Regions from separate parts of the Homo sapiens genome. Here all the other regions are linked to region 1. Evidence: fine-mapped expression QTL. A gene starts in region 1. Each other region holds a variant in brackets. All regions are shown on one strand. Distances are between the middles of the regions. Region 1 holds the start of SLC38A11 (solute carrier family 38 member 11). Region 2 has its middle 33 kb from the start of SLC38A11. Region 3 has its middle 360 kb from the start of GRB14.

Region 1 (2,771 bases):
TTACAAATATCTGGAAGTTTTATACTTCTAGAAAGTTAAAGAAAGATGATTCAAATAATGATGGACCCTTCAGTAAGTGGAAAAAGTACATTCGGTAACACTAGCAATCAACCACGCAGCCTACAGAAAAATGATTCACCACCACCCATATGCAGTTTCACCTTAATCTACCACATGTGGAAGATGCTCTCAACTGTGGAAACAGTGTGAATTACAGCCCCATCTTCAGCATAAAAGACATGCATACATACTGTTACACTAGAAAAAAAGGAAGCCTTTTATGGAAGAAAATTACCAATTTTCTTATTTAAGTCTTTTTTTCTTTAAAAATAATTAATGAACACTAGCAGCGTAGCGAGTCTTAAATTTTGCCCTTTCACTTAAAATTTAAACCAAAGCAAATACACTTACCTATTATACCAGATCCTATAATCGAGTTGACAACATTAAAAAGAGCAGCAGACTGACAGGTTTTCTCTTTATACTCATGTTCAGAAACAAGGGTTTCTCTGTCATCTAAATCTCTCTAATAGATAAAATAGCAATTATAAGCAAATACTAGTTCAGAAAATTAGAAAAGTAACAAATATGTAATGCAGGATACTAACACGATTTTCTAGTAATAATAAGTAATGTCACTAATGAAAATAAAATAAATGCCGGGATAACAGTAATAAAGAATAACAATAACAGCTAGTAATTCAACAGAGCTTGGTAAGCAAACTCCATCCTAAAATTTCCAGATTACAGCTGCCCCAGCTGCTAAGTACAGGATCTGTTAGGAATTCAGTGATGTGATTTTGTGAAATTAAAGTGCCTGCTAAGAAAAAAAAAAAAAAAAGTCAGATTAAGGCAAAACTTTTTGTCCCAGAGAACTTTTCGCGGTGCTAAACCAAGAGCCCAGGTGAAGGTAGGTGACCTGACCTGTTGCAAGGTGAATGAAATTTCCGGACAACTGGCTTCAGAACCTGCCTAGTCGCTAGTTTTACCTGCGGCGGGATGACAGGCTCCTGCCTCTGGTAGCCCATGGCTGAGCGGTGGTCCTCAGCAGGTGGAAGATGCTGGGGCTGGGTACGGATTCGCACCCGGCCAGCCTCCTCCGCCACCTCGCACACAGCCGAGGTCCGCGTGTAGCCGCAGAGCTGCAGGGAGCCAGTTCCACGGGCGCCCCCTGCTCCCTCGGCAGGCCGCGAGGGCTGCAGCCCCAAGATCTCTAGGCTGTGGCAGCCTGGGGCGCTTTTCCACCGGAGTTCGCCCAGACAAATGTATTTTTCCTCCGGAGACGGAGATGCTGCAGGATGTTTCTGATCCGGGCAGCCCTGTCTCCCCGCCTCCCCCCTTCACACCCCCGCCTCCCTGAGAGAACAGGGAGAGCTACTCTTCCCTGGAGCTGCAGAGGACAACTTGTTCCACCCACGCTGCCCTGCCCCGATCTCACAGAGTTATGACCGCCTCGTTGCAGTCCGTTCCTAAGTTAGCTTCTCCTTTGCTGGGGTCTGAAGCCCAGGTAAGAACGCAGAAGCACCCTTGGGCCCATGGGCCATCTTCCCTATTAGCACCTCCTCCTCGCTACCCCTCTTCAATGGCAGAGACGACGAGTGAAAATTTGGGACTTTTATTGTAAATGGAAATGGAAAGACTCATAAGAAAATGAATAGCAAAACAAAAAACTTTCCTAGGGTTTTAGCAAACTTGACTACTGAGCATGCTTTGGTCAAACGCTTCCTGGTAACTTTTAGAAAAAGGAGCGATAGAGAAAATGAAGGTGGATTGTTACTGCATTCAGGTAATGAACCTTGAAAAGGGAAAGAGGAGTACAAGGGTTTGGGAAAGGGGTGGCACCTACAGTGCCTGAGCTAGAAAGAATCTTCAATGACCACCTATTCAGTCCTCTTACATTACAGATGAAGCAACAAGCCCAGAGAGTATTCAATATCAGAGACAGAATGCATGAGACAACAGTTTCAGGGGCAATAAGAGCGGTGATATGCCATCATACTTAACAAATTCTGCCTTCCCTTGATATCCATAGGGGATTGGTTCTGGAACCCCTGCAGATACTGAAATCCAGGAATGCTCAGGTCCTTGATAGTAAACAGCATGGTATTTACATGTAACCTAGGCACATCCTCCAGCATACTTTAAATCATCTCTAGATTATTTATAATACCTAATACAATGTAAATGCTATTTACTTGTTGTTATACTGTATTGTTTAGGAAATAAGAAAAAAGTCCATATGTGTTCAGTATAGACACATCCATCCTAGCCCTAACTACATTTTTGATCTGGGATTGGTTTAATGCATGGATGCAGAAGTGGGGATATAGAGGCCAACTGTACCTAATTAAAGAGGTTCTGTTTCATACATGTTTACTTATAATTAAGAAAAAAAATTAAAAACCGTGGGAAAACAAAAGACTTATAAACTTTATATACACTCTGCCATCAAATGTTAACATGCTGTCATATTTTCTTCAAATTGTAAAAGTAAACACAATGTCACAATAGGAACCCCCTTGACCTTCTCCATTCCTTTCCCCAGGCCTTCAGCCCTGGAGTCATCGGTTCATCAAGTTAGTGTTATCTTTGCTATTCATACTTTGTATTTTAATCCGTTCATTTATAGCCATAAACAATATATAACATTGGCTTTTGTATTTTCAACATTTACAAAGATGGTGCCATATTGTACATGTTATTTTTCCACTGGCATTTTTGTTTTCAGCATGTATGATGTAGATATATGCAGATTTTTTTTTCATTTTATC
Region 2 (2,771 bases), 33 kb after region 1:
GATGAGATCAATGAGGATAAATGATAACTTAATGGGGTGTCACGGAATCACCTTAAGTTGGCTGGTGAAGACTTGGGCAGTTTTTAGGAACAGATTATATTAAAAACAGGAAAAAAAGAGCAAAGAAAAATATATTAGGACTTCTAGCTGCATGGTAAACAATAAACTCTGGTTTCACTAAATATATTTGGCATATATTAATTATAGAATTTTCCTTGCAAATGTTGTTACAAATTATATGATATTTCCTCTTTTCCAATTTTCCTCTTACAAGGTAAATTCACCTAATCTTTATTATGATATATTTGTAAGGGGAATTGAATTATAAACTTTCTTAGGCTAAAATAAGGACAAAACAAAAATTTTCTGATAAAATTTTCTTGCAGTATGCCACCATTTGCCAAAGGAAATCAGCCATTGTAGCCTTTTCTGCAATCTTAAGTTTTTTGGACAAATATCTATTGTCCAAACTAAAATTTAGTTCTAATTCCATTCATATTAGATATATTTATTTAATACAGCATTCTGTTTAATACAGACTTTATAAATAGAATCACATTTTATTTTTAAATGTCATATCCTAGAGGAATGTTTGTACAAATCATTTAAAAATGAATAGTTTAAAAATAACTTAGCTTTAGTCTTTAAGTATTTACATGCTGATTTGTCATACATAAAAGGATATTCTTCTTCTTAATTATATCTTTCTGATACTGAATTTTAAAGGTTTTTTTTGTTTTAATTACACAACTGGTGGTGACAATATAACCCTAGATGGCTATGGTATATTTGTTCAGGTGCCTTGAGAAATACCAAAATTTTTGACAATTTTTTTTCCTTTGGGCCAGATCTTTTTTATTACAATGAAAGAGAAATTTCAGTACACTAAGAGACAGAGACTCTACACAGAGTTTCAATTTCCCCTTAGCTCCTATAAAATGGAATATCATGCTACTGAGATATCTCATGCACTGCTCTTGCCTTCTGTCTGAAGATGGGATTCATGAATTACCTGAATCATCTGGATCCCTAGAATTGGATTAGTGGCTCAGACCACTCCATCTTTTGGGGCAGATGATAGAGGGTGTCTATTTCCTACAGCTAGGTTGTTGCAGTAAGATTACATAACTCTTATTTGATCTTTCTCATTATTTTTTTCAGGACATAAATTGTGTTCCAATTCTGATATCCAATGATCTTACCTCATTTGGGGTAGGTTAAAGTTGATACTCATTAGGACTCTAAGTACCATATTTTTCTACTTAGTGCAAACGTCAGAAAGTAAGTAATCATGTTTAAACTGACAAGAGCTTTAACCAGGAAGTTGCCTACATCACAAGATCTCCTTCCTGTGGTAATGTGCATGGAGTCTTCCACAAAGAGACAGACAGATGCCTGCAATAACCGGCTTAAGAAAAGATAACCATCAATACCACTGGTTGATTTCATCTGCTCCTATGAGAAGGACAGATTGTACATGGTGCTGTCAGATGATCTCAGACCATAAAGAGATTTCCTGAGAGATCGTTATAATATTG[G/T]GATAAAAATTTATTACAAAAAAACTCATAGAGTGAATAAATGATAGAGGTAAACAAAAGTTTATTCTATTAAAACTTACATTTTGCAGCTTATTACAACATATGTTATGATTTGAATGTGTCCCCTCCGAAGTTCAGTTGTTGCCAATATGATGGTATTAGGAAGTGATTGAGATCGGTATTAAGGTATTAAGATGGTCTTTAAGAGGTGATTAGGCCTTACAGTCTCTTCCTGGCTAATGGAGTTAAAAGGCCCTTATAAAAGAGGCGTCACACAGTGCTTGTCTAGTTGCCTTTCCACCTTATGCCATGTGAGGATGCAGCAAGAAGGCCCTCACTAGATCAAATGCCTAGAGCCTTACCTTATATTTTCCAGCCACTGAAACTGTGAGAAAGTACATTTTTTTCTTTATAAAATAGTCTGTGGTATTTTGTTACAGGAGCACAAATGGACTAAGACAACATGCATGTAATTAACAAATGGGTCTTCAGTATAAGCATGAAGGAGATAGCTTTCCAGTTTGCTAAGAGATGTCTAAACTGGACATCCTTAACAGCTGCCCCTCCACCCATAACCATTGCACCAGTTTCTATATAAAAGGTCAGAACTCTGCCTTTTACTTCGAGAACTTCTTTTCTGGAAAGGTCTAACAGCTTACTATCCATCCCATTATAACTAGCTATAATATTCTGTCAAATTCCTTCAAATTGATTTCTCTGTCTTAGACCACCATACCCATCATAATTCTGAAAGCTGAAATAGGATGAGCACCCTCTTCTCTACAGATAGCCCTATATGGAACCCTTGGCTTCTGCTGAGATAAGATTTGAGATAGGAGAAAGAGAAAAGCTAGTTTGCCAACCAGAGGGAGGATGATGTGTTCAGTTTGCAAATGGTAAGATTTAGATGTTCTGTAGACAACTAGAGGTATTGGAATCCAGGCTTGGATGAGAGGTTTGGTTTGGTACATCAATTGAGTAGTCATTAGTATAAAAATGACAACTGGGCTGGGTGTGGTGGCTCATGCTCGTAATCCTAGCACTTTGGGAGGCCGAGGCGGGTGGATCACCTGAGGTCAGGAGTTCGAGACCAGCCTGGCCAACATGATGAAACCCTATCTCTACTAAAAACACAAAAAATTAGCTGGGTGTGGTGGTGGGCACCTGTAATCCCAGCTAATCGGGGGACTGAGGCAGGAGAATTGCTTGAACCTGGGGGGTGGAGGTTGCAGT
Region 3 (2,771 bases), 700 kb before region 1:
GCCAGGAATTGCTGTGAAATTCACTAAACAGAGTCCACTTACTTCAGCGTCAGTTGAGTACTTAACTGCACTTTTCAGCAACCCTTATTTAATTTCTATACTGTTTCCTACAACATCAATTACAAACTTCTCTAGCAGGTTCTAAATGTCTTTCAATCTTCTCTTTCTCGGGAGAAACACTGCTACTGACTGTAATTACAGAATCTCACAAAATTGACATCCTCGGTGCTTTTATTCCAAACTAAAAATGTTTCTCCATATTTATTTATTCTTTTTCCCATTTTACCCTCTCTCTATTAGAGAACACGATCCTTTTCTCCTCTAGCTCGATATTTATGCTTCAATTTCTCATTTATGCATTTCTCCTCTACCCATAAATATATTCTAGTGAATCAAAATATAGTGTAACAAAGTGCCTTTTTTGGTTTTCCAGTCATCTTTGCTTTATATTGTTCCTTAATAGCAAACGTCTCAGAAGAAGAGTCTTTTCCCTGCCTTGATTTTTTACCCATTCACTCATCTCTTAATTCCTATTAGCCAGGGTTCCACCACTGAAAATACTCTCTCTGAGATCTACAATATCAGCGGTTACTGAAGAGGGTGAAATCTGTTAAGAGCTTTACAAATATGAGAGGACATTCTTATTAAATGTACTGAAATCTTCAATCCTCTCCCTGCCTCTGATTTATCTTATTTTATTAGCTGAACCTCAGATCAGAGCAATTCTTCCATTTAAAAAAAAATCTTTTTATCCCCTATCTTACCATATTTAGACTGACCTATACTGAGTAAAGGTATTGAACGAACTAGCAAGGGTGTAAGAAAATTAAAGTGATGAAGCCAATACATTCAACTGCAGTAGCATAAAAATTACATGTATACATGTATGTATTTAGTCTCCTTTTCATCTCATGCAGTGTGTGCTTATTATGAGACATATGGATCTACTGAGAGAAAATAATATATATACACACACATATATATGTATATATATATACTTAAACCCTGCCTTCCAAAAATAAGCTGTGCCAACTGCATATTTGTGTTGCTTTGCATTAGGATTAGTTAATTCTTTATAGTGTTTTAGATGTTTTATGGAATAAATTCTTTAAATGATTCCTCTCTGACACTGTGGCAGTTTTTGCTTTCAGCTATGCATATATTATATATGACATGCATATTTAATGTAAATATCTCACACATAGATGAAAAAGTATGATTGTACAATTTACCACTTACCTTCAGGGGTGGGGGTTAAGAGGCATTTTATTTTTAGAAGAAATTACTTGGATTAAAAATAAACACATCTCACTGCCAAACTAAATGTAATTGTAAAGAAGGAGGCTGCTGGAAAATGTCACATTCCTTTGGAAATTGATGAATAAAATAATAAAATAATAGCCTTGTTTATCTACAGTATTAAAAGATATATTTCAATATTCCCTTTGCCAAATAGGAAAAAAATGAGTAGCAGG[G/A]GAGAGATTTTATTTATCAGTCTTCAAAGATAGAAGGGAAAATTCTGTGTAAGAATACATAAATTGTAAATGACATTTAACAGATATCACATGTGAAAGTGCCTTCAATGCACTATTTCCAATTTGCTTAGACAACTTGAAAGTAAAACATCAAAATAAGTGCCTGTAACTTGCCCCAGAATGGCCAAGCTTTAAAGAGAAACAGTGTTTTCTGATTTAACTTATTACTATTGATTCACAAGGGAGAAGTTGCATTCAAAGATATATTTTCAAAATAACACATGGTACTCTAAAAACTTCAAAATACATCTAAACAGCGTTTAAACAAAGAAGGACAAATGGAAATATAACTATCATAATTCACATGCAAACATATCTATTCTAGCTTACACTGGCAGCCTGAAATATGAATAATTTGCTTCTTTTAATATACACTTGTTAAAAATCCAATTAAAGCCAATCATGAGAAGAAAAAAGAATCTACCAAATATTTGTTTTTATACTCTATTCCGGGTTCTTTTCTGTCTCCTTCCAAATTGTAACCTTCTCATTTAAAGAGCTCAGTCACCTAGCATTGCACATGAACCTAATTACCGGCTTCTAGGATTCAATCTTGCTTTTCATGCCCTGCCTCAATGCAGCTGGCACTGAACCATAGTTATATGCCAGGAAAACTACCAGCTGGTAGTACTCCGTGGTATAGCTCACTGAGGAATTTTTAATAGAGCCCATATTTTCAACAGTTGCACTACCATGACTAAGCAGGTGGCTCAAAGAGCTCCAAGTTCTTACTCACATCTGCACATCTTTTCACAAACCTGGGAAATACACCAGATTCAAGTTCAGCCTCCACGGTATGAAACCAAGTGAAATTTGAGACATTCTTTAAATAATTTACTGTATAAACCTGCAAACCTAGACAATTAACTAGCTCTGCAATATTATGGTCTTTTCATTTCTAAATGGACTATTTTCACTTACATCTGAGCTGAGTGGATGTATTTTTTTATCAGAATAATGTTTATATAACCTTTATAAGAGATATGAGCTCCCTTAAAAGGTTTCAGCAATATAAAAAGCCTGAATAAAGTTTTTAAACACTCTAAATCCATACTCATACTTAACCAAAAAGTTTAAATATAATAAAGATGGAAAAAATGTACTGGACAAATAACAACCAACAAATATTGGTAGTTATCTTAATATCTGATAAAATAAAACTTAGAGCAAAACAATATAAGAAAAGGAAAATGATGCTATATCTGGAAAAAAGAACAACAAAAATAAAACATAAGC

What was found.
Region 2: its variant is fine-mapped to the expression of SLC38A11 in lung (TOPMed, PIP above 0.99). The same link has a PIP of 0.9 or more in sun-exposed skin.
Region 3: its variant is fine-mapped to the expression of SLC38A11 in subcutaneous fat (GTEx, PIP 0.96).

The regions. Positions count from the first base shown.
Region 1 is chr2:164,954,220-164,956,990 of GRCh38, forward strand. SLC38A11 (solute carrier family 38 member 11) reads right to left here and starts at 1,306. Exons shown (of 12, transcript NM_001351537.2): 1 at 990-1,306; 2 at 412-526. The coding sequence starts at 1,028.
Region 2 is chr2:164,987,635-164,990,405 of GRCh38, forward strand. No RefSeq gene overlaps it. Among named protein-coding and RNA genes, the nearest start is that of SLC38A11, 33 kb to the left of the region's middle. The variant G/T (reference allele first, on the strand shown) is at 1,539.
Region 3 is chr2:164,255,754-164,258,524 of GRCh38, forward strand. No RefSeq gene overlaps it. Among named protein-coding and RNA genes, the nearest start is that of GRB14, 360 kb to the right of the region's middle. The variant G/A (reference allele first, on the strand shown) is at 1,476.